Homo sapiens: one gene and its partners. The protein of the gene in region 1 interacts with the protein of each later gene in a pairwise test. Each region holds a gene or a part of one and is shown on either strand. Other genes may lie near its edges.

Region 1 (7,026 bases):
ACATTTCTCCCATCATTTTTCTATTTTGTTAGCCAGGAGAAGAAAACCTTTAAATTTATTTTTTCTGGTCTGTCCATTGTTGATTTCTCATCTACCCCCTCCCTATGCAAAGCTCAACTTCTTTAGGAACCTGAAGCTTACCTTATAACTGCACCCAAGCCCAGGGCTTTAGGAACCTACCTGGCCTTTCTCAAAATCTTATAGATTCTGTGGTTTGGCTGCTGGGAGCCAGAGGGAGGTGGCTTGCTACTGTGTTTGCTATCATTTTGTAAACCTTCCGTTGCCATTTAAATAGGTATTTGTCTGTACTTTTAGAATAGAAGTGTCTTGAAGGCAATAAGACTGTGAGCTTTTCTGGTGAAAACACTGAGAGCCCAAGTCCACTAGTCCCAACTTTATTAGAGATGCCTGAAAATCCTCCCTGGCTGGCTAGGGGGAGCCGAACCAAGGTGGGATGGGCAAAGGGTGTGGTCAAATTGTCTCCTTCAGTTTTGGAAATATTTAATTTCCAATATAGATTCAGTATACATGGTAGGCTGTTTTGCTTCTCTGATGCCTGGGATAATCTGCCTGATATTTAGTGAGGGGTCAGCTTTGCCCTATAGCACCCTTTCTCTTCTGTATCTTGAGCATAGGCCCCCAGTTAGACTTTTGGAAAGTTTCTGAAAGTGTCACTTGCTCTGAAATTAGTATCAGGTTTGGCTGGTGGTTTGATGGTGAACATCTACCCCATTTCAAATATTTCTGAAAATTTTACACAGCATCCTATGGAGAATGGAACACTTTGTAAGCTATATGTACTTTGATGTAAATGTATATGTACAGATAGCATATGTATATACACACATATATAGTAAGTGGTCCATAGATATTTGTTGAATGAATGGAGAATAACTTTTTCGGTTGTATGCAAAATTCTGATATATGCTTTGCTTAGTAAAAATGCAACATGGCATATTTTCAAGGATTTTTCCTTTTCTTGTCCCATCTTCTAGTATGAAAGAAGTGTAGTGTAGCAGAACTTGACAGTAAAGCTAAATGGTTACAAGCACAGGCTTTGGCATTTAACAGACCTGGATTTGAATCTTTTCTCTGTTGTATAGTGGGTGTGTCAGTTTTCCTGAGCCTTTCAAGAGTGTTATGAGATTGAAGTGAGGTCATGCATGTAAAGTACTGGAGAACAGCACCCAGCCAAGAGGTGAGTGCGTGAAATTAATTTGGGGTACATGAAATTAAGGATATGTGAACTTCCAGAAATAATATACACAATTTTATATGCATTTTTACGGTTCTGTATTTATAGCTATAGCTATAATCTTATTTTCCAAGAAAAGTGTCAACCTCTGAACGATAGGAACTGCTGACTTGGAGTGTTTGATGCCTGAGGCAATGGGTTGTCTTCCTGGGGAGGCTGAAAGGAGTTGAGTGTTGGTGGCTAGTTCTAGGCCTTATCCCAGGTTAACACACTCCATGGAGGCCCCACTTCTCACCTCCCAGTTTCCCTTCCACCAGGCAGGCTGTTAATTGGGCCTGAGAGAAGCTGAAGAATGGTGCCAAGTCCTTGTGACCTCAAGTAAGAAAATATGTCTCTGAATCCAAGCATTCTGAGATGCAATTTGTACAGTTTATTTAACAAACACTTATCTAATCCTTACAATGGGCCAATCACTCTTCTAAGCCTTTTGCAAGTATTAACTCACTGAATCCTCACAACAACCCTATAAGGGAGATAGCATAATTAGCTCATTTTACTGATGGGTAAACTTAGGCACAGAGAGGTTAAGTTACTTTCTTTAGGTTACACTGCTAAAAAGTGGCATTACTGGGCTTACAAGCCCTAACAGTTCATGCTCTTACCTTAGTGGCTGTCCTAGACATTCTTTCCTTGTTTAATTCTTACAATTTATATTCTTTTAATGTATGGAACAAAGGTGGTATTTCCCAAGGTTTTCCAACAGCAGCAAAGGGAAGCTTGCTTAGCTGTAATCTAGAGGTTATAAGAAATTATTGGAGACAGCCAATTTCAATTTCCCTTCGAGTGCTGGAGTTCCCTAAGACGGTCTTGCTGAAACTCAGAGATAGACTGGAAGCACCTTGTTGGATGGCCTGGATCTCTGGTTCTGGAAGAATTACATTTTTGTAATGAGCTTCAACTTTGATGTGGTTTGAGAAGTGTGCTCGCCAGTTTTTTCCAACTATCAATAAGCTATATTTTGATGAAGTGACTTTGTATTTGCATCTTGGTGGACAACTGTGGTTGTAGGCTGAGAAGGCGGGGATTTATTAGAGTGCTGTCTAGTGGGACAGCTGGCTTGCCAGCTCAAGGTCCCAGTGAGGACCAGACCCTGGCAAATCCAGCTCCAGCTGAGAAACACTCACGTCTTCAAGGCCTCTTTCTCAAACAGAAGGGCCTTAGCCTGGCTTCACCCATTCCCTGGGGTGTGACGGGAGAGACTGTTCGGTAGAAACTGGAAGAGAAAGGAGAGTCTGAGAAAGTTCTCTGGAGTTGAAGGGGGAGGGGATGGGGGCAACTCTTCGAAAATCCTTAACTAAATGCAGCTGCTTGTTACACGGAGACTGACTTGCATGCCAGGAATATCTAAAAAGCTAACGAATACAAAATAAAAATAAACAGCAGTAAAAAGGCTCTCTCTTTGTTGCAGTAAGCTCAGTTGGGGTTTTCAGTTTGTTTAGGAATGGGATAATTGTGGCATCCACTTTATTTTGGTAAGGCAGTGAAACGTGGATTAATGTTATGTGATTGGGATGCTACCACCATCTGAACTTTTTCCTTCATCCCCTGCCCCCAGCCACACCCCCCAGAACACCCAGGCATGGACATCCATAGGACCTGAGTCTCAAACAGTTGCCCCTGAGTGAATTACATTGGAAGAGGGCAGATAATTTAATGGGATAATCTTGGCAGGGCCAGCAAATTTCACACCTCATCTCTCACTAATAGAAAGGCAGCAGAAGGCTACAACATCCTCAGATGAAAAGGTTGTATAAAAAGGCTCTGCTTAACAGTAACTGTCTGTCCATAAATAAGGTTTTGTACAGTCTTGATCCAAAAGCTGTTATGAAATACTGATAAGCCAAGCCTCATAATGTTTGGCCTCCTTACATTTCCTTTTCCTGCTTCTCTCCATAGAACCATAGATTTTTTTTTTTTTAAGAGAGAGAGGGGGACTAAAAAAAAGATCAACAGTCCAAACTTTATTTTTTTCAAGTATTTCTATACAGGATGGACTTCCTTTGATAGCTGCTTAAAGAGGTGGCGTGGAGTAATGGAAATAGAATGGGATTTGAGCCTGATAGGGAATGGGGGTTTGAATTGGGGCTTTGTTGCCTTCTTGGGCAAAGTTACCTAAACTTTTGAGCCTCTGTTTTCTTATCTGTAAAATGGGAATAACAATAATATGTGGCTTACTGGGGGGTTTTGTGAGAATAAAAGGATGTTATGAACTTATAGCGCCTAACACAGCACCATGGACTTAGTGAACGTGAAGTATGTTAGCCACCATCATTATCAAGGGCTTACTGAAGAAATTTGAAAATCTGGCTTCAAAACGATGGTCCTGCTGCAAGGTAGCAACCAAGGCTCAGAGAATAGCAAGTTTTACAAGGTTTTAGGACTCCAGAGTGTTTTGTTTTATAGGGAGCATGCAGATGCTCTAGATCTGAGCAGTACCCAGGCCAGTGCTGGGGACCTGGATGGAAGGGATTCCACAGTGCAGTTTTGCAATGCCTTAAAACAAAGGCTTTTTTCAGAACAGCAAGCTCTTTGGGGAAGAGCAACCCCTCCCAGGTGCTTAGTGTAATTCCAGAATCCTACAATGGGGAATGTTACATTTCAGGGACCTCCACTTGTAATCTGACCGTTTTTAGCTCCAATATCCAAATAATCTTGCTGAGCACAACTTGAAAGAGAAGGATAATGGCCGGAGGAAAGGATCCTGAGGTGCTCTGTTTGCCATTTAAATTTTCTGAGTAGAAGAAAAAAAGTTCATGTTACCCAAAGAGAGAAGAGTAATGAAGCGTGTGGGAAGCAGGAGGGGTGATAAAGAGGACTTCTAAAGACAAAGCAGAGGTTGGGTTTGATATTTTATTTTTCAACAGTGAAGCTTGTCACTCAGTGTATTTCAACTAACATTTATTATATATTTATCACATGAAAGATACAGTATTCGTGTCCAGGAATAAAGTATTAACTTTGCCCTCAAGGAGAGAGGAGAAAAATTCTCACTTTTTTGAGCACCTGCTATATGCCAGGTATCATTTTTTTAAAGCTATTAAATTTATGCTTCTCAGCACTCCTTGGAGTTTGGACTTCTGATCCTATTTTACAGATAAGAAAATCGAGGCTCAGGAAGGTAAGTATCTCAGCCAAATTCGTACAATGATTAAGTTGGGATTTGGGATTTGAATCTAGGTATTTTGACTCTCAGATGTATGCTCTTTTTGTTATCCTTAAAGTGTGATTGGGGAGACACCAATGAGCAGATGTGGTACCACAGGCAACTATCTCTCCCACAAGTGAATTATAGGAAAGAGTTGTGGAAAAAATGCTGTGGGAACATGGGGAAGAATACATTAATTCTCAGGGGATTAGAGGGTCAGAGGAAGAACATGAGTGCCTCCTTCATAGGCTTATTGTGAAGAGTCAATGAAATAATTCATGGAACACACTCAGACTGTGCATAGTGAGCGCTCAGTGAGTGTTCTGCTATAGTTATGTAGCCAGTGAGAGGCCTGATCAGGATTTATCTGCCTCTAAAACCCATGTACTCTTGCTCCCCTGTGCACTTTTTAAACAGACATGTGATTGTTGGAAGAGTAAGTAACTGTGCAGTCACCAAATGAAAGGGAAGACACCAATACAGTTGCTCTGGTATATTCACCACCTGCCCTAATCCTGGCTTTTAGGACTGGACTGCTTTGGGTATGGGAGGGGATTTGGATAGATGTGGGGTTGGAAAGAATCAAGATGTCTCATCATGAACTATAGCGCTCCTAGAACTCTGGCCAGGATTTACCACCTGCCCTCATTCATTCATTGATCATACATTTTCTATGCACTTACAGTGAACCAAATATTCTGATAGTCTCACTGGAGATGTAAAGATGAATAAGGTTAGATCATTGCCTTGGAGGGTTTTTCAAATGACAGATTTATGGCAGAGATTGCTAGCTGATCACCAAATATGTTTCCATCTCTTCCGGTCATATGACTAGACAACATTTCTCAGCTTTCTCACAGTTAAGTGAAGCCATGTGACTAAATACTAGCCAATTAAATGAAATTGGAGGTAATTTTTGTCGCTTGTAGGCTTGACCCATAAAAAACTCCCCAGGCAGAATCGGTATGATCCTTCTTCGGTGGCTTGACAACCTTAGAAGTCATGTGTTGAAAGTGTCACAACGTGGAAAGAGCCTGAGACTCTCCCTTAATCACTGTGTGGTGGAAGCCACACTTGTTTAGGTTTTATGTGAACCAAAAACAAGTGTCCATTGTTAAGGCTGAGATTTTGAGGTTTTTTTTTTTTGTTTTTTTTTTTGTTACAGCTGCTAATGTTACCTTAACTAACATGAGGTTGTAAATCAGTGTGTGGTGAGATCAATTTAGTGGGTTAGGACCAGCATTTTTAGATAGAATAAAATAGGAAACCTGGTTTGTGTCTGACCACTTCATGCAGACCTGGGGCTCCATCCAGTAAATTAAACCCCTTCCCAAATAATTTATGGCACACATAGGGTGCCTCTAGCACTGTAGAGAATCTAGAAGAATGAAGGGTGGCCTTTACCCTTGGGGAGTTTACCTTTTAGGGGCAGTAAAATAGGCACTTTATACAGCCAGTGAGTACAGAGTTGGCAATTATATATGCAGAATCCCTAGAAGGGTGGGTCTTTCGGGAGGAAGTGTGATATGATGTGAGCCTTGAAGGAAGGATTGAGAGGGTGCGGGATTGAAGGATGGGAGATGGGAAGAGGAGTTGGACATTTCACTGCTGGAAAAGGGCTGGAGTTCCACAGCAGCCTGCAGCTGCTCTGGGGGTCTCCATGGACTCGCTGAGACTATCCTGAGTTCTTAAACCAGGCCTTCACTGTGGAATGAAGCTGATCTCCAGGGGATGGGAGAGTGAAGAAAAGAAAGACAGCGTTGAATGAAGCCTGTTGTGTTTTTAGCATATGAAGGGTGGAGGAGGAGAGAGAAGGAAGCAGTTTCACTGGGAGCCTGAAGACTTGTCTTTCTTCCCAAAGGGTGTCCCAGGGAGTTAAAAATGTTGTGCATTTCAGGGCTGCTTGTCAAAGGTATATGATGGTGTCTTATTGTCTCTAATGCAGCCATTTTCTCTTATAGTGCAGGCTACTTAATTCTATTCCCCCTCTTGTCTGCTTGATGAAAAGAATAATAGTATACTAATAATTAACACACTGAGCATACTGTGGGCCAAGTACTATTCTAAGTTCTTTAAGCGATTTAACTTGCATAGTCTTCAGGACGACCCTATGAGGTAAGCCAGAGTTCTAGGAGCATTATTGTTCACTATTAGGCATCTTGATTCTCTCCAGCTCCACACCTGTGTGAATCCTCCACCATGCCCAAAGCAGAATCCAGGCTAAAAGCCAGGATAAGGGCAGATGGGAGAAAATACAAGACGAACTGTCTTGGTGTCTTCCCTTCTATTTGGTAACTACACAACTACTTACTCTTCCAACGACCACATGTCTGTTGAAAAGGTGCACAGCAGAGCAAGAGTATATGGGCTTTAGAAGCAGATTAATCCTGACCAGGTCTTTCACCGGCTGCTGAACACTCCTTGAACACTCACAATGCATGTGGCAGGGTGCTCAGTGTGTTCCACGATATCCCCATTTTCCAGATAAGGAAACTGAGGCACAGAGAAGTAAGTAACCTGCCCAAGACCACACAGAGAGTTAAATGGGAAAACTAGGATTTGAACCTGCATATCCTAAGGCCTGAGTTTTGTTCCTAATCATTATTATGCCAAACTGCATTGCAGT
Region 2 (7,026 bases), on another chromosome or scaffold:
TCCCCTAAATATAAATCCCTAATTGACATAGTTTTATTTTGCTTGTTTTTAACCTCAGTGCAAACTAAAAGTAGATACTCTTGTGAATCCTTCCTTCTGGCCGGCATCGTGTGTGTGTGTGTGTATGTGTATGTATGTGTGTGTGTATGTATGTATATACACACGCACATATATAATTTTTTAAATTTCTGCAGCATGCTATTTTAAAAGATTTATCCATATCGTTGCCTATGCCTGTAGTTTTTGTGTTTTAATTTTTTTAGAGACAAGGTCTCACTATATTGCCCAGGCTGGTCTTGAACTCCTGGGCTCAAGGGATCCTCCTGCCTGGGCCTCCCAAAGTGCTGGGATTACAGGTGTGAGCCACCACACCCAGCCCAGTTAGTACATTTTTGTCTTATGAACATACCACAAATTACCTTTCCACTGTTGATGGACATCTGGGTTGTTTCTGGTCTGGGGCAATTATGAACAGCCCTGAGTCAGGTGTGCATACCTTCAGCTTTACTAGTTGATACCTGGTTTCCAAAGTGGTTGTACCAATTTACATTCCTTCAGTGGTGTCAGCCTTGAGTTTGTAAGTCACTGTATTTGCTGTTTAACCACAATTATGCTTGAATATTTTCTGAATGAATGAATAAAGGTCCCTGGGTAGTCCGATCCCTGGCCTGTCATGTGCTAGCGTATTTTTATTTAGTTATATGGTTTGGACTAACCACCCAAATACCAGAAATGGTTTTCCCACTGTGTTTGGTTGACAAATATCTAATGGAATCCTTTCATCAATCTTTTTTTTTTTTTTTTGGAACAGATGAGTAGTTACAGGAAATTTTAAATATGCAAAATGAAGTACTAAAAATAAGTGGCTAGTACCTAGATGTTTTTTAAGGCTCTTGAATGAATCCTGCCTCTGGTGAATGCTTCCATTGTGCCCAGCCCTAAATGTGTAGGACAGTGTAGTGTGCAGGAACCCAGGCCTATCCTTGTTAAAGTACCCTCTGAGGATGAGACTCCTTAAGAGGCACTGTGCACAGACCCTAACTCATACTTCTTGGCAATTCCAAAGTAACCACAGACTCTGTGCTACAGGAATCAATGACTCTTTTAAACTTTTTTTTTTTTTTTTTGAGACAGAGTCTCACTCTGTCGCCCAGGCTGGAGTGCAGTGGCGCGATCTCGGCTCACTGCAAGCTCCGCCTCCCAGGTTCATGCCATTCTCCTGCCTCAGCCTCCCTAGTAGCTGGGACCACAGGTGCCCGTCACCATGCCCGGCTAATTTTTTGTATTTTTAGTAGAGACGGGGTTTCACCATGTTAGTCAGAATGGTCTTAATCTCCTGACCTCGTGATCCGCCCGCCTCGGCCTCCCAAAATGCTGGGATTACAGGCGTGAGCCACCGCACCCAGCCTTTAAATCTTTTAAATGTATTTTTCTCCAAATTTTCCTTTGCCTGAGAAAGTAGAAGTAGCTTAGAGCAGAGTTTTTGTCGTTTTTGTTCATTTTCTTTGTAAGAGATGGAGTCTAGCAGTGTGGCTCAGGCTGGCCTTGAACTGCTGGGCTCAAGGGATCCTCCCACCTCAGCCTCCTAAAAGCTGGGACTGCAGCATGTGCCACATCCAGCTTGAATTCCTGCTTTGTGAACAGACAGTTACCAGGCTCACTTTGATTGCCCGTGTTTAGTTTTGCCAGCTGGATTTGAAGTGTGTGTGTGAGAGAGAGTGAGAGAATGTGAGAAAGAGAAGGAGCAGGAGGGAGGGTGTGGGGAGAGGTGGGCAGTTCACCTGAGGGCAGCCGTTAAATTCAGGTGTTCATTGAGTACTTACCATGTGCCTAGTATTATGTGCTGTGTTTCTGCCCTTAGAGCAGAATGTTACGCAATTCTGTAGGTTTACAAAATACCTCAGGGGAATCCTTTTTAGCTGGAGGGATGATGGAAGAACACTAGCACAAAGACTGAGATTTGTAGATCCTTTTTATTTCTTCTCTAAAGCATCTTGGAAAATAGCTAAATCACTCTATTTTCAGTCTTTATTTACATAAGTCACAAAGACTTTTTTGCTCATTATAGTAAAGATTTTTTTTCAGATTCTCTAAAATAATGATAATTTTAGAAACCACATGCGGATAAATTAGAAGTTTTCAGGAAAAGACACCCAAAGGAGGAGGAGTAAGAAGTCGTTAGTATGAGAACCTGTTGATCTGAGTGATGGGGGAGGAGCCCTGTCGTGTTCTTTGTCACCCCTTCGGCCTTCCAGCGGGCAGCTTTCACAAAGGAGCTCCATTTTCCACCTGTTGCAGGGCAGGGGCAGCCTCAGCCTGGGCGAGGGAGGAGGCCTAGGGCTGAGATCACAGCCATGCCCTTTCATGTGCAGCCCACCCAGCTCACCTGGGCACGTCCCATTCTGTTCTTGCACCAACCTAGAGCAACCAGAGGTCCGGTTGGGTCAGCTTTTCACACCCCATGCCATGTTGAAACCTCAGTGGACGAGAAGGTTCTTTTGAAGTTCATATGCAACTGCTGGGTTTACTTCTGTCTTTGTCCCAGAACAGTTTCAGCATCAATGACCTAGGGCAAGTTTTTTTGTTTGTTTGTTTGTTTGTTTTGACTCCTATGTCTTTGAGTGTGTGGGTACATATGAGAAAACTCCCTAACTAGAGCATGCTGCTTCTGTTGACTAGTAAACATTATGTGGCAGAGAGCGCCTTCAAAGCACCAGCCTTCCCTGCCTGGGAAAGTGACCAGTAGGTGAACTTGCTTTAAGTTTTGTTTTTTTTGTTTTTTTGTTTTTTTTTTGAGACGGAGTCTTGCTCCATCACCAGGCTGGAGTGCAGTGGCGCGATCTCGGCTCACTGCAACCTCCGCTTCCCAGGTTCAAGCAATTCTCCTGCCTCAGCCTCCCGAGTAGCTGGGATTACAGGCGCATGCCACCACGCCCAGCTAATTTTTCTATTTTTAGTAGAGACAGGGTTTCACCATGTTGGTCAGGCTGGTCTCGATCTCATGACCTCGTGATCCACCTGCCTCGGACCCCCAAAGTGCTGGGATTACAGGCATGAGCCACCGCGCCCAGCCTGCTTTAAGTTTTAAGGAAGCACTTGTAAAAATAAAATCTGGAAGTACTGTCAACATACAAATTACATACAAATTTGGAGATTTATAATGAAGAATTTTGCCAATTTAGCTAAAATCTAAATCTTAGATTTAACTAAATCTTTTAAATCTTTGTGTTTCATTATAAAACACAAAACATTTATAATGAAGACACACTTCATGTCATCATTATAAATCTTTGGTGTTATCCTGGCTCCTATATAAAGAGCACTGGCAGGCTCAGGCCAGAAGTGGAGAGGGGGCTTGGACCGACAACTATGTGTTGTTAATTTTCTTCTATTAAAAATATTTTTTACTTTTAGAAATTGAAATCATATAGAAAATTATGCTGGGCACAGTGGCTCACGCCTATAATCCCAGCACTTTGGGAGGCTGAGGCAGGTGGATCACTTGAGGTCAAAAGTTCAATCGAGACTAGCCTGACCAACATGGTGAAACCCCATCTCTTATAAAAATGTAAAAATTAGCCGGGTGTTAGGCCGGGCACGGTAGCTCATGCCTGTAATCCCAGCACTTTGGGAGGCTGAGGCGGGTGGATCATGAGGTCCGGAGTTCGAAACCAGCCTGACCAACATAGTGAAACCCCGTCTCTACTGAAAATACAAAAATTAGCCGGGAGTGGTCGTGGGCCCCTGTAATCCCAGCTACTCCAGAGGCTGAGACAGAGAATTGCTTGAACCTGGGAGGCGGAGGTTCAAGTGAGCCAAGATCATACCACTGCAATCCAGCTTGAGTGAAAGAGCGAGATTCCATCTCAAACAAACAAAAAATTAGCCGGGTGTGGTGGCATGCACCTGTAATCTCAGCTACTTGGGAGACTGAGGCAGGAGAATTGCTTGAACCCAGGACGAGGCAGTTGCAGTGAGCAGAGATTGAGCCACTGCACTCCAGCCTGGGCAACAGAGTAAGACTCTGTCTCAAAAAAAAAAAAAAAAAAAGAAAAGAAAATTATTGAAAGCAAATTAACCAGCATCATAACTCACCATTCAAAAATCATTGCTCATACTTTATCTTTTATAATGCTTAGAAATTAAGTATTATCAAGTCAGAGCTTCCTTGGGCCATTTCTCTTCCCTTCCCACTGAGACAACCACTCCCATGAATTTGGTACATTTCCTTCCAACTCTATTTAAATATCAATTTTACTTCAAACTGCATTTTTTTTTTTTAAAGACAGAGTCTCTTCCCCAGGCTGGAGTTCAGTGGCACAATCTCAGCTCACTGCAACCTCCGCCCTCCAGGTTCAAGTGATTCTCTTACCTCAGCCTCCTGAGTAGCTGGGATTACGGGCACATGCCACCATGCCCAGCTAATTTTTGTATTTTTAATAGAGATGGGGTTTCACTGTGTTGGCCAGGCTGGTCAAACCCCTGACCTCAAGTGATCCACCTGCCTTGGCCTCCCAGAGTGCTGGGATTACAGGCATGCGCTACCGCGCCCTGCCTTCAAACTGCTTTTTTGATGAATGTCAAAAGGACATAGAGGCCTGGTGTGGTGGCTCATGCCTGTAATCCCAGCACTTTGGGAGGCCTAGGGAGGTGGATGGCTTGAGCCCAGGAGTTCGAGTCCAGCCTGGGCAACATGGCAAAACCCTGTCTCTACAAAAAACACAAATTAACCGGATGTGGTGGCTCATGGCTATCGTTACAGCTACTTGGGAAGCTGAGGTGGAAGGACTGCTTGAGCTCAGGAGGTCGAGGCTGCAGTAAGCCATGATTGTGCCACTGTGCTCCAGGATTCTTGCTCAAAAAAAAAAAAAAAGACAAGACAAGACTAAGCATGGTGGCCCATGCCTACAATCCCAGCACTTTGGGAAGCTGAGGCCAGCCAGAGTATCACTTGAGCCCGGGAATTCAAGGCCAGCCTGGGCAACGTGGCAAAACCCTGTCTCTACAAAAAATTAGCCAGGCATGGTGGCGCACCCCTGTAGCCCCAGCTACTCAGGAGGCAGAGGTGGGAGGATCGCTTGAGTCCCAGAGGTTGAGGCTGCAGTGAGCCTAGATTGCACCACTGCACTCCAGCCTGGGTGACAGAGCAAGACCCTGTCTCAAAAAAAAAAAAAAGGACAGAAATCTTTACTAGCCTTTATTTTGTACTGTCACATATGTTCTATGTTTAGGGGATGGAACTCTTAGAGCATTTCACATTTCACATGATATTTCTTTTTTTTCCTTTTTGTCACATGATGTTTCTTGTTAACAAAAATTGGAGAAGTATTTAGTGTTTTACAGAGCTTCAATTACTTGGTGTAAACTTTCAGCCAAAGGTGATCCAAAATGGAAATGGAGTAGAACTTGTTTTGTGTACTAGATTGTATCTTTTTTTTTTTTTTTTTTTTTTTTTTTTTTGAGACAGAGTCTCGCTCTGTCGCCCAGGCTGGAGTGCAGTGGCGCAGTCTCTGCTCACTGCAAGCTCCGCCTCCCCGGTTCACGCCATTCTCCTGCCTCAGCCTCCCCAGTAGCTGGGACTACAGGTGCCCGCCACCACACCTGGCTAATTTTTTGTATTTTTAGTAGAGACGGGGTTTCACCGTGTTAGCCAGGATGGTCTCGATCTCCTGACCTCGTGATCCACCTGCCTCGGCCTCCCAAAGTGCTGGGATTACAGGCGTGAGCCACCGCACCCGGCCTAGATTGTATCTTAAATCCAAATGACTACTGTATTATATGAAAGTAATCAGTTTTTTTTTTTTTTACAAAAATTACACTTACGGAGTTTCTTATTCCATTTATCCTCCTAGAAAGTACAGGAGATATTTTTTCCACAATATCAGATTACTCTTAATAATATTTTTAGATTCCTTCTAAAAAGGTACTTACTAGAAATGTGAATTCCCAGGCCTTCACTTCCAGAAATTCTGATTAATTAGGTCTGGGGTGGGGTCTAGGAGTCTGCATTCTAACAGGCAGCCCAGGTGATTCTCGTGTAGGACTCCTTGGGAGCACACTTTGAAGAATGCGTCTACTATGCTGTGATGGTTTTATAACTTACTAATTTCAACCAAGGATTGGTGTAGTAGCCCATTCTCACGCTGCTATGAAGAACTGCCTGAGACTGGGTAATTTATAAAGGAAAGAGGTTTAATTGACTCGCTGTTCCACATTGCTGGGGAGGCCTCAGGAAACTTACAGTCAGTGCAGGCAGGGGAAATGCCAGACGCTTATAAAACCATCAGGTCTCATGCAACTCACTCAAAATCACCAGAACAGCATGGGGGAAACCGCCCCCACCTGGTCCTGCCCTTGACACGTGGGGATTATGGGAATTACAATTCAAGGTGAGATTTGAGTGGGGACACAGAGCCTAACCATATCAGTTGGCAAACTTTCTTTTTTTTATTTTTTAAATTTTTTTATTTTAAGAGATGGGGTCTCACTGTTTGGCTCAGTCTGGAGTACAGTGGCATGATCCTGGCTCACTGCAGCCTCGAACTCCTGGGCTCAAGCAATCCTCCTGCCTTGGCCTCCCAAAGTACTGGGATTACAGGTGTGAGCCACCACACCCGACCCTCTAGAAGTGTTTTTGTTTGTTTGTTTGTTTTTTGTTTTTTGAGACAGAGTTTCGCTCTTTCACGCAGGCTGGAGTGAACTGGCGCGATCTCGGCTCACTGCAACCTCCATCCCCCCGGGTTCAAGCGATTCTCCTGCCTCAGCCTCCCGAGTAGCTGGGATTATAGGTGCCCACCACCACACCTGGCTAATTTTTATATTTTTAGTAGAGACGGGGTTTCACCATGTTGGCCGGGCTGGTCTCAAACTCCTGACCTCAGGTGATCCACTCACCTCGGCCTCCCAAAGTGCTAGGATTACAGGCGTGAGCCACCATGCCCAGCCTAGAAATGTTTTACTAATTAGTAATGTAGTCTTCTAAAGGGAACTATTACATTGTCATATTGTGTTTCCAGACAGTATTTT
Region 3 (7,026 bases), on another chromosome or scaffold:
TGAGTAGCTGGGATTACAAGCGCCCACCACCAAACCTGGCTAATTTTTGTATTTTTAGTAGAGATGGGGTTTCACCATCTTGGCCAGGTTGGTCTTGAACTCCTGACCTCATGATCCACCTGCCTCGGCCTCTCAAAGTGCTGGGATTACAGGCATGAGCCACCGCGCCCAGCCTAGATTCTTTAACTTACCAATGTGTTATGGTAATCTTTTTATATATGAGTTTTTTAGCCAGGTATGGTAGCTCACACCTGCAATCCCAGCCCTTTGGAAGGCTGGGGCAGGAGGATAGCTTGAGCCCGAGTTCAAGACCAGCCTGGGCAATATAGGGAGACCTCATCTCTACAAAAATTAAAAAATTAGCCAGGTGCGGTGGTGGTGCATGACTGAGGTCCTAGCTACTTGGGAGGCTGAGGCAGGAAGATCACTCGGGCTTGGGAGGTCGAGGCTGCAGTGAGTCATCATGGTGCCATTGCACTCCAGCCTGGGCAACAGAGACAGACCCTATCTCAACGAAAAAAAAAAAAAAAAAAAAAAAGAAAGAAAGGAAAAAGAAAACAGTTTTTAAAGACTTTAGGCCAAATACTCTTTTTAGTCATGGTACCCCTAATGATAAGCACAGTGCCTGACACAGAATAAGCACAAAATAGATGCATTTCAGAGATCTACTGCACTAAATGTTATTGACTTTTTTCTTTTTAAAAGATTCTCAAGTAGTCTAACAGCCAGCCTTATCTTCCTGAAGCAACTTGTCAGAGCTGTGATAAAGAAGAAAATCAATTAAAGAAATGAGTACTTTTGAATTTATCTAAAGTGAAATCACTAAATTTTGTGTAATTAAAGAAAAAAAAACAGGGCAACACATATCAAGGAATGGTGTAAATATATTCTGGGAAATACTTGTGTAAGGCAAGGAAGACTTTCCCTCTACCATCAGGATTCGATAACAGTCTATGAAATAAACTAAATGGAGAAAATGTATACAAATTTATTATGTGTATGGGAGTATCACAGGAAAGAAAAGTGTATACCAAAAAAAAAAAAGTGGTATTTTTAAAAAGTGTATACCAAAAACAAACAAAATCCGTGATATTTCAAACCAGTCTATGAAATAAACTAAACGGAGAAAAGGTATACAGATTCATTATGTGCATGGGGGTATCACAGGAAAGAAACGTGTATACAAAAAAAAAAAAAGTGATATTTAGGAGTTTATATACCCTTTATATAGCATGGGGGTAGAGGTATACAGGCAATTTAGAAGAACAATTCTGGAGAAAGATAAATGGGCCCTTAGAATAATAATAGATGATACTTTGTGTCAGTTTGTCTGGGTGTGGTGCTGACTTTTACTCTCCTCTCCAGTGATAAGAGACAATCTTCCCTGGTTGATCAAACTCCCTAGGAGCAAACTGAGCTTCTTTTGGAGGATCTGTCCTTAGGTAGGTAACAGGAGTTCAGAGAAAGTGTTTCTTTGCATTTGCTACTTTGCAAGTGTTTCCAACTTAAAGTAATCAATATATCAAGGTGTCATATTTTGGAGTGGCATTTCCTCAACACCTTCATTTGGCAATATGCCAAAAGACACTCAAAGCCACTGAAGTATCAATTTTATCAAAAAAATTCTTTAGGGAGAAACAGTATTTTCACTGGTTACTAATTTAAACAATTTTTATATTAAAACAAACAGGCACATATGGGATAGAATGCAAAATTTACCTGAACCTTTTAGCAAAACAAGAGGCTTCAAAGAACTTTTGAGCTTTCCATAAGGTTATATGTAATACAACATGAAAGACTCTCTTGAGATATATATATATATGGAAGATATTATAAGAGGGAAAAGCAAGTTGTATAGTAGGAGGGAATGAAAAATTATTCCTAGTCACAGGACAGATAAGAAGCCTTCTTCAGAGAACATTAGTAATTACTGCAATAGGTATGGATCCTTTGAAACCTAGAAAGCTTTCTCTCACAGAAAAGTTCATTTGGAACTATTCCTGGTGTTATCATCAGATGCTGATCTCAGAATCCACCTTCTTTGCTGCCCTAACCCAGATTACCACCTACAGAACAAACCTTAAACCTGCCTGTTGGCCGGGCACAGTGGCTCACGCCTGTAATCCCAGCACTTTGGGAGGCCAAGGAGGGTGGATCACAGGGTCAGGAGATCGAGACCATCCTGGCTAACATGGTTGACACCCCGTCTCTACCAAAAATACAAAAAATTAGCCGGGCATGGTGGCGGGCGCCTGTAGTCCCAGCTACTCGGGAGGCTGAGGCAGGAGAATGGCGTGAACCCGGGAGGCGGAGCTTGCAGTGAGTTGAGATCCTGCCACTGCACTCCAACCTGTTAAAACAAACAAACAAACAAAAAAACCCTGCCTGTCTATGGATCTTACTAACCAAGATTTTAAGTCTGAATGCTCATAGTCTTCTTCTACCACACATCCGTCTGAACACACGTCTAATAACCAAGTCTTGCCACTATCACACTTAATTCTTAATCTCAGCCTGCTCACACTACTCCTGAAATCTATCATTTTAGAAACCGTGGTATTAATGGAGGCATCTCCATATCACCAGCAATGATCTATTTTAAGTTACTATTGTAATTAATTAGTAGAAATCAATTTCCCAAACTTTATGAGTAGCCAAGCAGTTCAACCACATTAACCAAACCAAGGCAAGCCAGATAAACCAAAATAACCCTCTATTGTGAAACACCATGATTCTGAGACAAATTAATTCACAAGTGAAAATCTTTCGATCAACATGAGGTAGAAAGTACCACATGTTAAAACATCCTTCCGAATTATCTCCTTCCTTTCCATAAAAATGATCTATAAAACTGCATTTGGATAGAGAAAAGTTACAAAAATGTTCAAAGACCCTCAAATAAACACATCAATGAAGGATATAGACTGTAACCATTAGATAAAATAATTCTTATATGCATTGAAATATGAAATATGAACTTTTACAAATACAGTAGTCCCCCCTTATCCACAGGGGATATGTTCATACATTTGAGGATAGTGCTGAATCCTATATACACAATACTAAAATAAAACACAAATTGTACATAGGCTGGAGGTGGGGGGCAACAGTTTGGGGAAGAAAAAAAACATCAGAATACTAGACTTGCACTGGGACATTCCACAAAACAGAAAAGTTAGTATTGCACTTTCTCTCCTAGAAAAAATAGGTAAATCCCTCCAAAGTCCTTTTCCTTTCATTCCCACACCAAGCTTGAGCTTTGCTTAAATCAAAGGAGAAAAGAAAATGTTTCACTCAAATAAAAAGAGAAGGTGGGCAGGGACTGGAGGGGCAGAAGAGTACTCAAGTAAGATATTTTCTAAACCAGCAATTTTTAAACCTGACTGAACATTAGAATCATCTAGCTTCATTCAGATAAATTAAACTACAATAGGTGCTGGTAGGGTCCACGCATCAGTATTTTTAAAAAATTCCTTACTCTAGAGTAAGGGTTAAAAAGCACCATTCTAAATAAAGGAGCTAGAAAAGGAATCCTCAGCCATGTATGTTAAATAATTCCTATCTTTGATCCTGTACTACGGGATTCACAAGAAAAATGGAAAGGGAAACATGGAAAGTTGCTAAACTGCAATGGAAATAAATATTTCACTTTCTGTCAGAAGAGAAGATAAAACATTAACTTTTAAATTATAAAACCAATAGCCCCAGCTACAACCAATTTGCTTAAAAATTGGTACTATCAGCTACTCCTTCTTCCTAATATCTAAGCTCTCTTATGAAAGGTTCAGTCTAAATGGAAAATAGACAATGACCAAAAATTGTTAAATGTTACAAAGGTAAGTATTAAAGTACCAAGTGCCATAGTAGCTGGGGAATTGAACCAGTCTAGAGGATGAGGAAAGGAGTTAGAGAAACTGGCAAACAGGAAAAGCTTCTCTGAAGAAATGTTGCCTAAAGTGGGATCTAACCCAAGGGTAAGCAGTTAATTAGGTGAGGGTAAGGAAGGTGCTGGCAGCCAAGGCAGGGGAAAATAGCAAACATAAAGGCTCTGAAGGCGGGGGGTGGAAATTAAAGCATTCCAGGAACTGAGAGAAGATAAATATGGCTAGGGCTTACAGAGAAAGGAGCAAGAAGAGTAGCTCATAATGAGGTTAGAGAGGTATGCAGATGTCAGACCATACAGGACCCTGGAAATAATGTCAAGGGTTTAAATTTCATCTTCAAAACAATGGAAATTCATGAAAAAGTTTTAAACAAAAAAAGTAACAATCTTTTCACAAACTGACTGATCTAAATTTTTGTTAGCACTGTCCTATACAAAGAATACCAATATTTCAAGAAACGTGAAAGTAATATTCTTGTAGAGGTGACAGAATCATCAACCTATCATAGCTTGATCACATTAACATTAAAAGCATTCCCTGAACTCTCTGCTTGAATTCAGTTTTTATTAAATTTGGTCTGTAATTTGGATTTCCAGGTAGTGCTCCCTGTGTCAAAGAAACAATGCTGGCTGATCACTCTAACTACTTAAGACCATTTGACACTTTACATTATCTCACTGGAGATTAGAAAATTAACAGTGCTTATTAGTCAGTTTATTATGAATAACTATATGCTCCTATTTAATAGTTTATTTATGTGGCCCCTATGTATAGTTTTATCAGCCCAGAAAGTACCCTCTACCTGTGGAAATGTTCCTATGGTTTTGGTGGGAGGGCTACCAACAATAAACTTCACTCCTCTAGCCAAGGAATTAGGGATATGACCTAGATGGGGCCCCTCATTGTATCTGCCCTTTCCTGGCTACAGTGACTGATCCAAAGTGTGGGAACATGAATTAAATTGGGCAATTCCTCTAGATTTCAAACACAGAAGCTGGAAGTGTTCAGTTTTATTCCTCAATAACCAAGCTCATAAAGGTGTGACCCCAGATGGCCAAGCTTCACATCTTGGAGAAGCCAGAGAGAAAGCAGAGACTCCGAGAGAAAGTAGAGATAAGAACTCATGAGAGACAAAGGCAGTTCTGATGCTTTATAATACCTGGGTTTGGTCAAATCCTTGAAACTAGCTGCACCACTACCCTTCTGGATTTAATTACTTTTTTTTTTTTTGAGATGGAGTCTCGCTCTGTCTCCCAGGCTGGAGTGCAGTGGCTAGATCTCGGCTCACTGCAAGCTCCGCCTCCCGGGTTCATGCCATTCTCCTGCCTCAGCCTCCCAAGTAGCTGGGACTACAGGCGCCCGCCACCATACCTGGCTAATTTTTTTTTAAGTAGAGACGGGGTTTTACCGTGTTAGCCAGGATGGTCTTGATCTCCTGACCTCGTGATCCGTCCGCCTCGGCCTCCCAAAGTGCTGGGATTACAGGCGTGAGCCACCACGCCCGGCCGGATTTAATTACTTCTTCTTTTTCTTAAATTCGTTTTTGTTGCTTGCAACCAAAAGATACCAAACATGCAATATTAAGAAATACGGAACGAATTGGCTTTCAGCAGACAATACTTGCATCATTATCCACTAGCTTTAACCATTACCTCTGTCCCTGTGATATAATATGAAATACATGGTCTTTCTCTCCAGTTCCTGTCACAGTCCTCCTAAAACTCTTGGAATTTTCTAATAGGAGTGTCTTTGGTTATTTATGAGCCACTATTTTTGATCAAACCTGATTATGCTAATGAAGTGATTTAGGGTGGGGCCAGTCACCAGAAAGACCATGTGACAAGAGGGTTGAACTCTCAGCCTCACACACACACACACCTCTATGGGAGGGGATGGAGATGAAGTTCTATAAAAACCGTTGAATAAGATTTGTTGAGCTTCTGGATGAAAACACTGGAGGTGCTAGTGAGGCAGGTGAATAGGGTCTGGAGGCAGGGAATCTAAGGCTGTTTCACCCCGACTTCCCAGAACTAACTTGAAGGGAAAACCCTAACTTTCCACGCCTAAGTAACAAAAGGACCAGAGGCTACTCCCGTTGCAAACCACCTACCTTTTCTGCACAGTAGACGGGAAATTGGCTGTCCTCAACAAATCAGACTGACTGCGGGTGGAATCTTCGTTTGCAACTTTGTAACTTCACTCTAGCCACTGAATGGTCGCTGTCCACAACCAAGCGGACTGATGTGGGGGTGGGTCTGGCAACCAATCAGACCAATTGCAAGCCACCTCTTCATTTACATGAGGTGAGCATGGAATGGCCAATGGGAAAGTTCTAGGGGGTATTTGGACCCAAGAAGATTCGGTAAAGCAGCGGGGGTCGGGGGGGAGTGCTGCTAGGGCAGCTCCCACACTGTGGAGTGTACTTTTGTTTTCAATAAATCCCTGCTTTTGTTCTTTTGTTGCTTCATTCTTTCTTTGCTTGGAGTTTTGTCCAATTCTTTGTTCAAAACGCCAAGAACCTGGACAGCTTGCAATCATGACTCTACTGGTGACACTGGGATGGTGGTGTGCCCCTTCCCCCATACCTTGCCCTATTCATCTCTTCCTACTGGCTGTTCACTGATCTTTTGTAGTATCCTTTATAATAAACCCGTAAATGTACTTCCCTGAGTCCTGTAAGTCACTCTAGCAAGTTAACTGAACCAAGGAGGGAGTAACGGGAACCCTGATTTACAGTCAGTCAGGAGTGTATAGGTGACAACCTACTACTTGTGATTACCATCTGAGGTTGGGGGCAGCCTTGCGGGACTGAGCCATTAACCTGTGGGATCTGACTAACTTCAGGTACATATGTGTCAGAATTGAATTATGGGACATTCAGTTCATGCCTGCTGGAAAACTGCTTGGTATGGAAAAACCCCCACACATCTGGTAGCATAAAAAAAAGAGTGTGTTTTCAAGTCCCACACAGAAAAGACAGGTATATATTCCCAGCAAGAATTTATCAGTTTTGCAGGAATAAGGCATACATAATGATATACACAGTAACAGATTAAATGCAAAGTCCGGGAAAATTTTAAACTAGAATTTTTAAGATTAGGGCAGGGAAGAATTGAAGTGTATTAAAAAGAACAATGAATTA
Region 4 (7,026 bases), on another chromosome or scaffold:
TCCAGCCAGGCCCAAGGGGGTGGGAATGCAGGCAGATGGGCCAAGGTCACCCGGGATGCCCAGAGCCCCGCTGTCGGGCCCAGGCACCACTACGTGGCAGTCGCAGCTCCTGCCAGTCACCTGGGCAGCGGGGGGAGGGGAGAACCTTGGGGGTGTTCAGCATCACAAAGAGGCGGAAAACTCTTCCAGAAAGATCTCACCAAAATCATGCCTCCCTAACAAAACAAATCCTGCTTTTCTAAAAACCTCAATGGGCCTATCCGAGCCCACTGCAGTCCTAGTTTCTTCAAAGCTGTGTAAGGCACTTGAATGGCTTATTAACACCACCTGGAAAAGTTCCTGTTTCAATCCTGATTTAGAAAATAAATTCAATAATACTGCAAAAAAAGGTTCCTTGAAAAATAGCTTTAAAAAAGTAAATACTTAAGTTTTCTAAAGAATAAAATAAATGCTAAGCTCTGCTTAAATTATATGACACAACAGGTCATCTTGGCACTGATAAAACAAAGAGAAAACCTGGAATACTGCTTCGGAATTAGACCTCCCTGGAAAAAAACAAACACACCAACAAAAGACACATGTGCGTCGCCGGTTCCGGGCTCAGGGAAGAGAGCAGCCCGGAAGGCCCTGGTGGGCCCAAGCACATCATGGCTGCCCTGGAGTGGGGGCAGGGGGGTGGCTGCTACAGAACAGACCCCTGGCTCTGCTGCGCTCTCCTCTTTGGGACACTGGTGTGGCCGACCAGGACTGGCTGGGCATATCTGTAAATATGAACCCACCTGGCCCTGGCCGCAGAGAGGAGCAATGGGAAACTGGGGCTGGCCACTCCGCTGCTGGGCCTGACCCAGGGGGTGCTTCAAGAGTTTGGCTCCTGGGTCCGCCCCAGGGTCCCACGTGCACAACCATGCTGCCCCATGCACACCAGTGTCTTTGGTTTGGCTGCCGTTGGGCACCTATGACCTCTGGTCCCACCCCGGGCCTAATAGGAGCTGGGAGCAAGAGCCGGTCCATCTTCTCTTTGGTGAGGTCTCCTAAGCTGCCTTCCACCATCTGCCCGCCACCCAGTGCAGTTCCACAGCCACCAGGACGGGCTGCGGGGGGTGTCCCGACTGGCTCTGGGGTGCTGGGGAAAGCACTGTGGGGCGGGCACCCTGTCCACTGCCTGCCACCTGTTGGGTCCTGAGGCTTCTGAGGGAGAGAAGGACAAGGATGGGAGGAAGGGGAGGGCAGGGGCCTGGAAACCACCTAGCTTCTTGGTGGAGCCTGGGTCTCAGGTTCTGGAAGGCTGGAGGGCAAGTCCTGCCTCCTCCCTTCTGCCTGGGGGTCCCCTTCTCCCTGGTTCCCGCCCTCCAGCAGCTCTTGGGGGTCCCTGAGGAAGACCACCATGACCGTGATGTTGTCGTGGGAGCCCCGCTCCCGGGCCGCAGCCACCAGCTCCTCGGCGACACGGAGCCCGCTGCCCTGCTGCCTGGTCAGGTGGCTCTGGACCAGGCCAACAACTTCCTGGTGGGGTACGACGTCAAAGAAGCCATCACAGGCAAGCAGCAGGTAGTCCTCGGAGCCCGTCAGCGCCCGGGAAGCTGCATCGGCCTCCCCAGACACGTAGGGCTTCTGGAAGACATCCCCTGGACAGGCGGAGAAGAGCCCGGGTCAGAGGACCACGGTGTCCACAGCTTCCTCCCCACCTACCCAGGCCTAGACCTCACATCCTGCAGGGACAGAGACCAACCTGCTCTCATGGGGTCTGGGGTCTGTTGCTCCCTTATGCAAACTGCCCAGTACTTCCCACTTGCCTGGGAACGGAAACCCCTGACCTTGGCCTGTGAGCTCCCCCTTTTTTTCTTTTTTCTTTTTTGAGATGGAGTCTTGCTCTGTCGCCAGGCTGCAGTGGCGCGATCTCAGCTCACTGCAACCTCTGCCTCCTGGGTTCAAGCGATTCCCCTGCCTCAGCCTCCCGAGTAGCTGGGATTACAGGCTCGCGCCACCATGCCCAGCTAATTGTTTTTTTTTTTTTTTGTATTTTAGTAGAGATGGGGTTTCACCATGTTGGCCAAGATGGTCTCGATCTCTTGACCTTGTGATCTGCCCACCTCAGCCTCCCAAAGTGCTGGGATTACAGGCATGAGCCACCACACCAGGCCGAGCTCCCTCTTTCTCTGCCCTAGCCGTCCCATCCTGGCCTCACTTCCTGGAGTGTCCAGAGACACAAGGAAAGACACAGCCTGAGGATGGGCTGTCAAGAAGGTGCCACATCTGCCAAAAAGGACAGAATGTTTCAGAGGGGTAGGTGCCAAATCCCTGGCAATCAGCTGGGGAGGGAGAGATTTTCTAAGTACCAGGAAGGAGGTGTGGTCACAGTGCCCACAGCCTGAGACCCGGCACTGACCGCATGCTGAGACAATGAGATGCAGGCTGGACCCACTTTTTTTTTTTTTTTTGAGATGGAGTTTCGCTCTTGTCGCCCAGGCTGCAGTGCAATGGTGCAATCTTGGCTCACCGCAACCTCCACCTCCAGGGTTCAGGTGATCCTGCTGCCTCAGCATCCCAAGTAGCTGCGATTACAGGCAGGCACCACCACGCCCGGCTAATGTTTTTTGTATTTTTAGTAGAGATGGGGTTTCACCATGTTGGTCAGGCTGGTCTCGAACTCCTGACCTCAGGTGATCCACCCGCCTTGGCCTCCCAAAGTGCTGGGATTACAGGCGTGAGCCACCGCGCCCAGCTACTTTTTTTTTTTTTTTTGAGACACAGTCTGGCTCTGTTGCCCAGGCTGGAGTGCAGTGGCACGATCTCCGCTTACTGTAACCTCCGCCTCTGGGTTCAAGCACTTCTCCTCCCTCAGCCTCCCAAGTAACTGAGATTACAGGCGCGTGCCACCACACCTGGCTAACTTTGTATTTTTTGTAGAGAAGGGGTTTCACCATGTTGGCCAGGCTGGTCTCGAACTCCCGATCTCAGGTGATCCGCCCACCTTGGCCTCCCAAAGTGCTGGGATTACAGGCGTGAGCCAGCATGCCCAGCCAGACCCATTACTTTTTAAAATTTTTATTTATTTTTATTATTATTTTTTGAGACAGAGTTTTCCTCGTTATCCAGGCTGGAGTGGAGTGGCGCGATCTCAGCTCACTGCAACCTCCGCCTTCTGGGTTCAAGTGATTCTCCTGCCTCAGCCTTCTGAATAGCTGGAATTACAGGGGCTCACTACCATGCCTGGCTAATTTTTTGTATTTTTTTTTTAGTAGACATGGGGTTTCATCAGGCTGGTCTCGAACTCCCGACCTCAGGTGATCCACCCACCTCGGCCTCCCAAAGTGCTGGGATTACAGGCGTGAGCCACCGCGCCCAGCGAACCCACTTTTTTCCCAAAAGAGAAAAAAGGATTGTCAGCATGAACGCGGGAGGAGGATAAACCTCATTTCCGGAATATTGGAAGCTCTACTTCCAGCCCATAGGGTGGTGAGCCACAGGTTTCTATGAGATTTGTAGGAGCTGTTTTAGGTGAGATAATAACATACAGTGTAACTTACACTCAGACACTGGTGCTGCAGTCTCTGAATCTGCCCTGTTCCCTTCACACTACGAGGGTATCACCCCAGTGCATGACAAATCCCCCTCGGCCCATCACACTGCCTCCCTGAACCCCTGGTGAGCCGCGGGCCACACTCGAGGCCTGGGCTTCCGAGAGACCTTCTCCCACTTGGGTCGGCCTCTTTGGCTCTCACCGATGGCTCTGGAGACGGCCAGGGTCCCGTTGACTCTCCAGCAGTCCATGTGAGACACAAAGCCACCCAATGCTTCAATGCGCGCCTTCTCATCCTGCAGAAACACAGCCAGAGTTGGGGGCAGGGCCGGGGGGATGGGGCGTGAAGCCCCCTGCTGCTACCTGAGCAGAGGCACAGCTGCTTCTAAGACAGCAGCATTCAAAGCCGCAGCACTGGAACAAAGCCAGGAGGCTCAGAGATGCACCCAAACGAGGCTCATCAAAAACAGTGAGAAATTATACACAACCCACAAGTCCTTTAGTTGCAGGAATGGTGAAATGAACGGACCACCTGAGGCCGCCTAGCGGTGCCTGCGCCCCTGGGCAGCATTCTGGGTCAGGGAGGCACTCACGAGGCTTGCGAGCCCGACACAGACAGCAGATCCTTCTGCTTCCCTGTCTCTAGCTCGGGGACACCGTCTCTGCCCTGAAAGCTGCTGGGCCAAGATGGAGCATGTGACGTGAGTGGTCACACAGCAGGGAAGCCTGAGCGAGGCCCTGACGGCAGCCTGTGCCCGCCCAGTTCTTTTTTTTTTTTTTTTTTGAGACAGAGTCTCGCTCTGTCACCTGGCTGGAGTGAAGTGGCACGATCTTGGCTCACTACAACCTCTGCCTCCTGGGTTCAAGTGATTCTCCTGCCTCAGCCTCCTGAGTAGCTGTGACTACAGGGGCGTGCCACCATGCCCAGCTAATTTTTTTGTGTTTTTAATGGAGACAGGGTTTCTCAAAGTTGGCCAGACTGGTCTCGATCTCCTGACCTCATGATCCACCCTCCTCGGCTTCCCAAAGTGCTGGGATTACAGGTGTGAGCCACCGCGCCTGGCCTAGTTCTTGTCCTCCTCTACCCAAGCTCAGCACAGGCACAGTCTCCACTCAGCTGGGGACCACAACACCCCAGGCCTGGGTTCCTCCAGGGACAGGACAGAGGCTTGGTCCACCCACAAGTCCTCTAGAAACCTCTTTGGTCCTATCAGCCTCTGCCCAAAGGAGAGGCTGCCCCGATGAGAGCCTGCTGACTGAAGCCTGCACAACAGCATCCCTGACAGAGTGACGGAGGCACCCTGGGAGTGAGGCACCTCCCAAGTCTACTGGGGGAAGAGGGCATCCCTTACCGGTTTATCAGGTAAACCTCTTGACCCCACGCAGCACCAGCCCTTCTAGTCCCCAGGCACAGCACCAGCTGGGCATGAGAACTCTGATGCCCCAGGTGATGGTGTCCCCTAGACAGATTGGGATATCAGCCAATTCCCTCCCCAGAGCAGACGGACATGCACTGCGGGAGGCCTGGGGGAGGCAGCCCTCTCCAGATGCCTGCACCAAGGACCAGGCCTCTTTATGTGGCTCCCCTGCAGAGGGCATTGTGGTGGGAATGACATGGGTTTGCAGGAGTCCCGGCCTTCCTGGGCACTGCAGCCATGAGCCTGTGTGGGAACTGGACCAGTGCCTGGTAGGCTGGGTGCTCCTGTCCCAGCTGAGGTGGAGAATCAAGCCATGAAGGGGGCAGGAACAGGGACCTCAAGGCTCTCTCTGGGTCTAAGATCTGCCACCTCCGGGGTCTGAGCAGGGCAAGGGAAAGGCAAGGAGGACCAGGAAGGAGGGAAGAGCAGGAGACAGCCAAGAAGAGGGCAGGAGAAAGGGCACGGGGAGAGGCAGGTGGATGAACACAGAGTACGCACGAATGTTCACACATACATGTGCCCACACACACGCGTGAAGGCGCCTGCAGACGGCGAGGAGCTGCAGAGGAAGCAGCGCCTCCTCCCCTGTGCCTCAGAGGCGTTCCCTGGGGAGGGGCTGTGAGCGTGGGAGGCTCCAGGGAGAATGAGGAGCCTTTCTCTGCTTCTGTCTCCCACACACCCCAGCCCACTCCAGCCCCTCAATGTCCCAGAGGCAGGAATGTGGGCAGGTGATGGAGAATGAACGGCAATCTGCTTCCCATGCCCTCTGGAGGTGGCTCTCCCCCACAGGGGGCCATGCAGGCTAAGCTTAGAACCTTCCTACCTGAAGCCCCTCCCCACCACCAGGGATGGCTGTGGGACAGGGTGGAGCCAAAGGGCAGGAGGGCACAGGGGCTGTGCTGCTCCCCTGCAGCCTGTGATCCCCTCTCCTGCCATTCTGCACCCCCTGTGCTGGACAGGCTGCGCCGGCTCCCCGGGCTCGCCCCTCTAACCCTGGCCCTGAACCTGGGTCCTCCTCCCCTCCAGTGGCTCCCACCTCCGTCACACACTGGCCAGGCTCAGTCTGGTCCGGGACTAACATATCCCCAGGCTAAGGGGTCTTGTCCCATTCCCCCTGAGTCTCCTAGTCACTGATTCTTGATTCTGTTTTTTGTTTTGTTTTTTTTTTTTTTTTTTTTTTTTTTTTGGAGACAGGGTCTTGCTTTGTTGCCAAGGCTGGAGTGCAGTGTCATGAACATAGCTCACTGCAGCCTCGACCTCTAGGGCTCAAGCCATCTCCTGCCTTCGCCTCCCGACTGCCCAGCGCCCACCCCCTCAGCAGCTCTTCCCTCTGCTCCTCAAACCTCATCCTCTCCACCTGCCTGAAACAGCTTCCCAGGTCAAAGCTGGAGCCGGTGGCCTGTGGGTTCCTGTGAACAGCCATTTCCTGCTTCCTAGGAGTGCAGTGCTCCACACGGCCAGGCCGCAGCAGCGTCGCCTATGGCACTGCCATCCTCCTGGATGCCCAAGGCCCTCTGCGATGTCTCCACCTGCAGAGCCGGGACTCCTATCTCTCCCAGGCTGCCTGCCAGGCGTGCCAGCGTGACCTGTGACCTTGAGTGACTCTCACTGCCCTCCTGAACTCACTTTTGTGACCCAGCCCTCAACTTGTCCTCCAGTGGCCTGATCACTTCAGAAGCTTCTAGTGAGTCCTTACAGAGTTCCTCCCAGCCTGGGGCAGTCCAGCTTTTCCAGCTGAAGGAGCAGCAGGTGGGTGGTCTTCTCCCCTGCCCCGAGTCTTCTACCCACTGATTCTGGGGCTTGTTTTTGTTTTTTGAAGACAGGGTCTCACTCTGTTGCCAAGGCTGGAGTGCAGTGTCATGAACATAGCTCACTGCAGCCTCAACCTCTAGGGCTCAAGCCATCCTCCTGTCTCCTGAGGCTTGAGAGGTGGGAGGATCACTTGGGGCACACCTCCACACCTGGCCCTGATTCTGGCATAACCTGCCCTTTCCTCCTGGTCTCTCCCCTGGCCTGCAGGAATTGCAACTGCCTGAGATGCGGCTCCATTCCATTCATCTCTCTGCCTCATCCTGCCAGGTCCTTGCC

The links.
Region 2: the proteins of ROR1 (region 1) and DUSP14 interact in a two-hybrid assay, tested with the Homo sapiens proteins (one study listed by BioGRID and IntAct).
Region 3: the proteins of ROR1 (region 1) and STYX interact in a two-hybrid assay, tested with the Homo sapiens proteins (one study listed by BioGRID and IntAct).
Region 4: the proteins of ROR1 (region 1) and PPM1F interact in a two-hybrid assay, tested with the Homo sapiens proteins (one study listed by BioGRID and IntAct).

The regions. Positions count from the first base shown.
Region 1 is NC_000001.11:63,777,011-63,784,036, forward strand, and holds part of ROR1 (inactive tyrosine-protein kinase transmembrane receptor ROR1 isoform 1 precursor), read left to right. Parts: intron 1-7,026. UniProt on the Homo sapiens protein: Has very low kinase activity in vitro and is unlikely to function as a tyrosine kinase in vivo. Receptor for ligand WNT5A which activate downstream NFkB signaling pathway and may result in the inhibition of WNT3A-mediated signaling.
Region 2 is NC_000017.11:37,492,885-37,499,910, forward strand, and holds part of DUSP14 (dual specificity protein phosphatase 14), read left to right. Parts: intron 1-7,026. UniProt on the Homo sapiens protein: Involved in the inactivation of MAP kinases. Dephosphorylates ERK, JNK and p38 MAP-kinases. Plays a negative role in TCR signaling by dephosphorylating MAP3K7 adapter TAB1 leading to its inactivation.
Region 3 is NC_000014.9:52,733,145-52,740,170, reverse strand, and holds part of STYX (serine/threonine/tyrosine-interacting protein), read right to left. Parts: intron 5,327-7,026; exon of another isoform or gene 5,293-5,326; intron 1-5,292. UniProt on the Homo sapiens protein: Catalytically inactive phosphatase. Acts as a nuclear anchor for MAPK1/MAPK3 (ERK1/ERK2). Modulates cell-fate decisions and cell migration by spatiotemporal regulation of MAPK1/MAPK3 (ERK1/ERK2).
Region 4 is NC_000022.11:21,921,847-21,928,872, forward strand, and holds part of PPM1F (protein phosphatase 1F), read right to left. Parts: intron 3,817-7,026; coding exon 3,723-3,816; intron 1,626-3,722; coding exon 1,246-1,625; 3' UTR 1-1,245. UniProt on the Homo sapiens protein: Dephosphorylates and concomitantly deactivates CaM-kinase II activated upon autophosphorylation, and CaM-kinases IV and I activated upon phosphorylation by CaM-kinase kinase. Promotes apoptosis.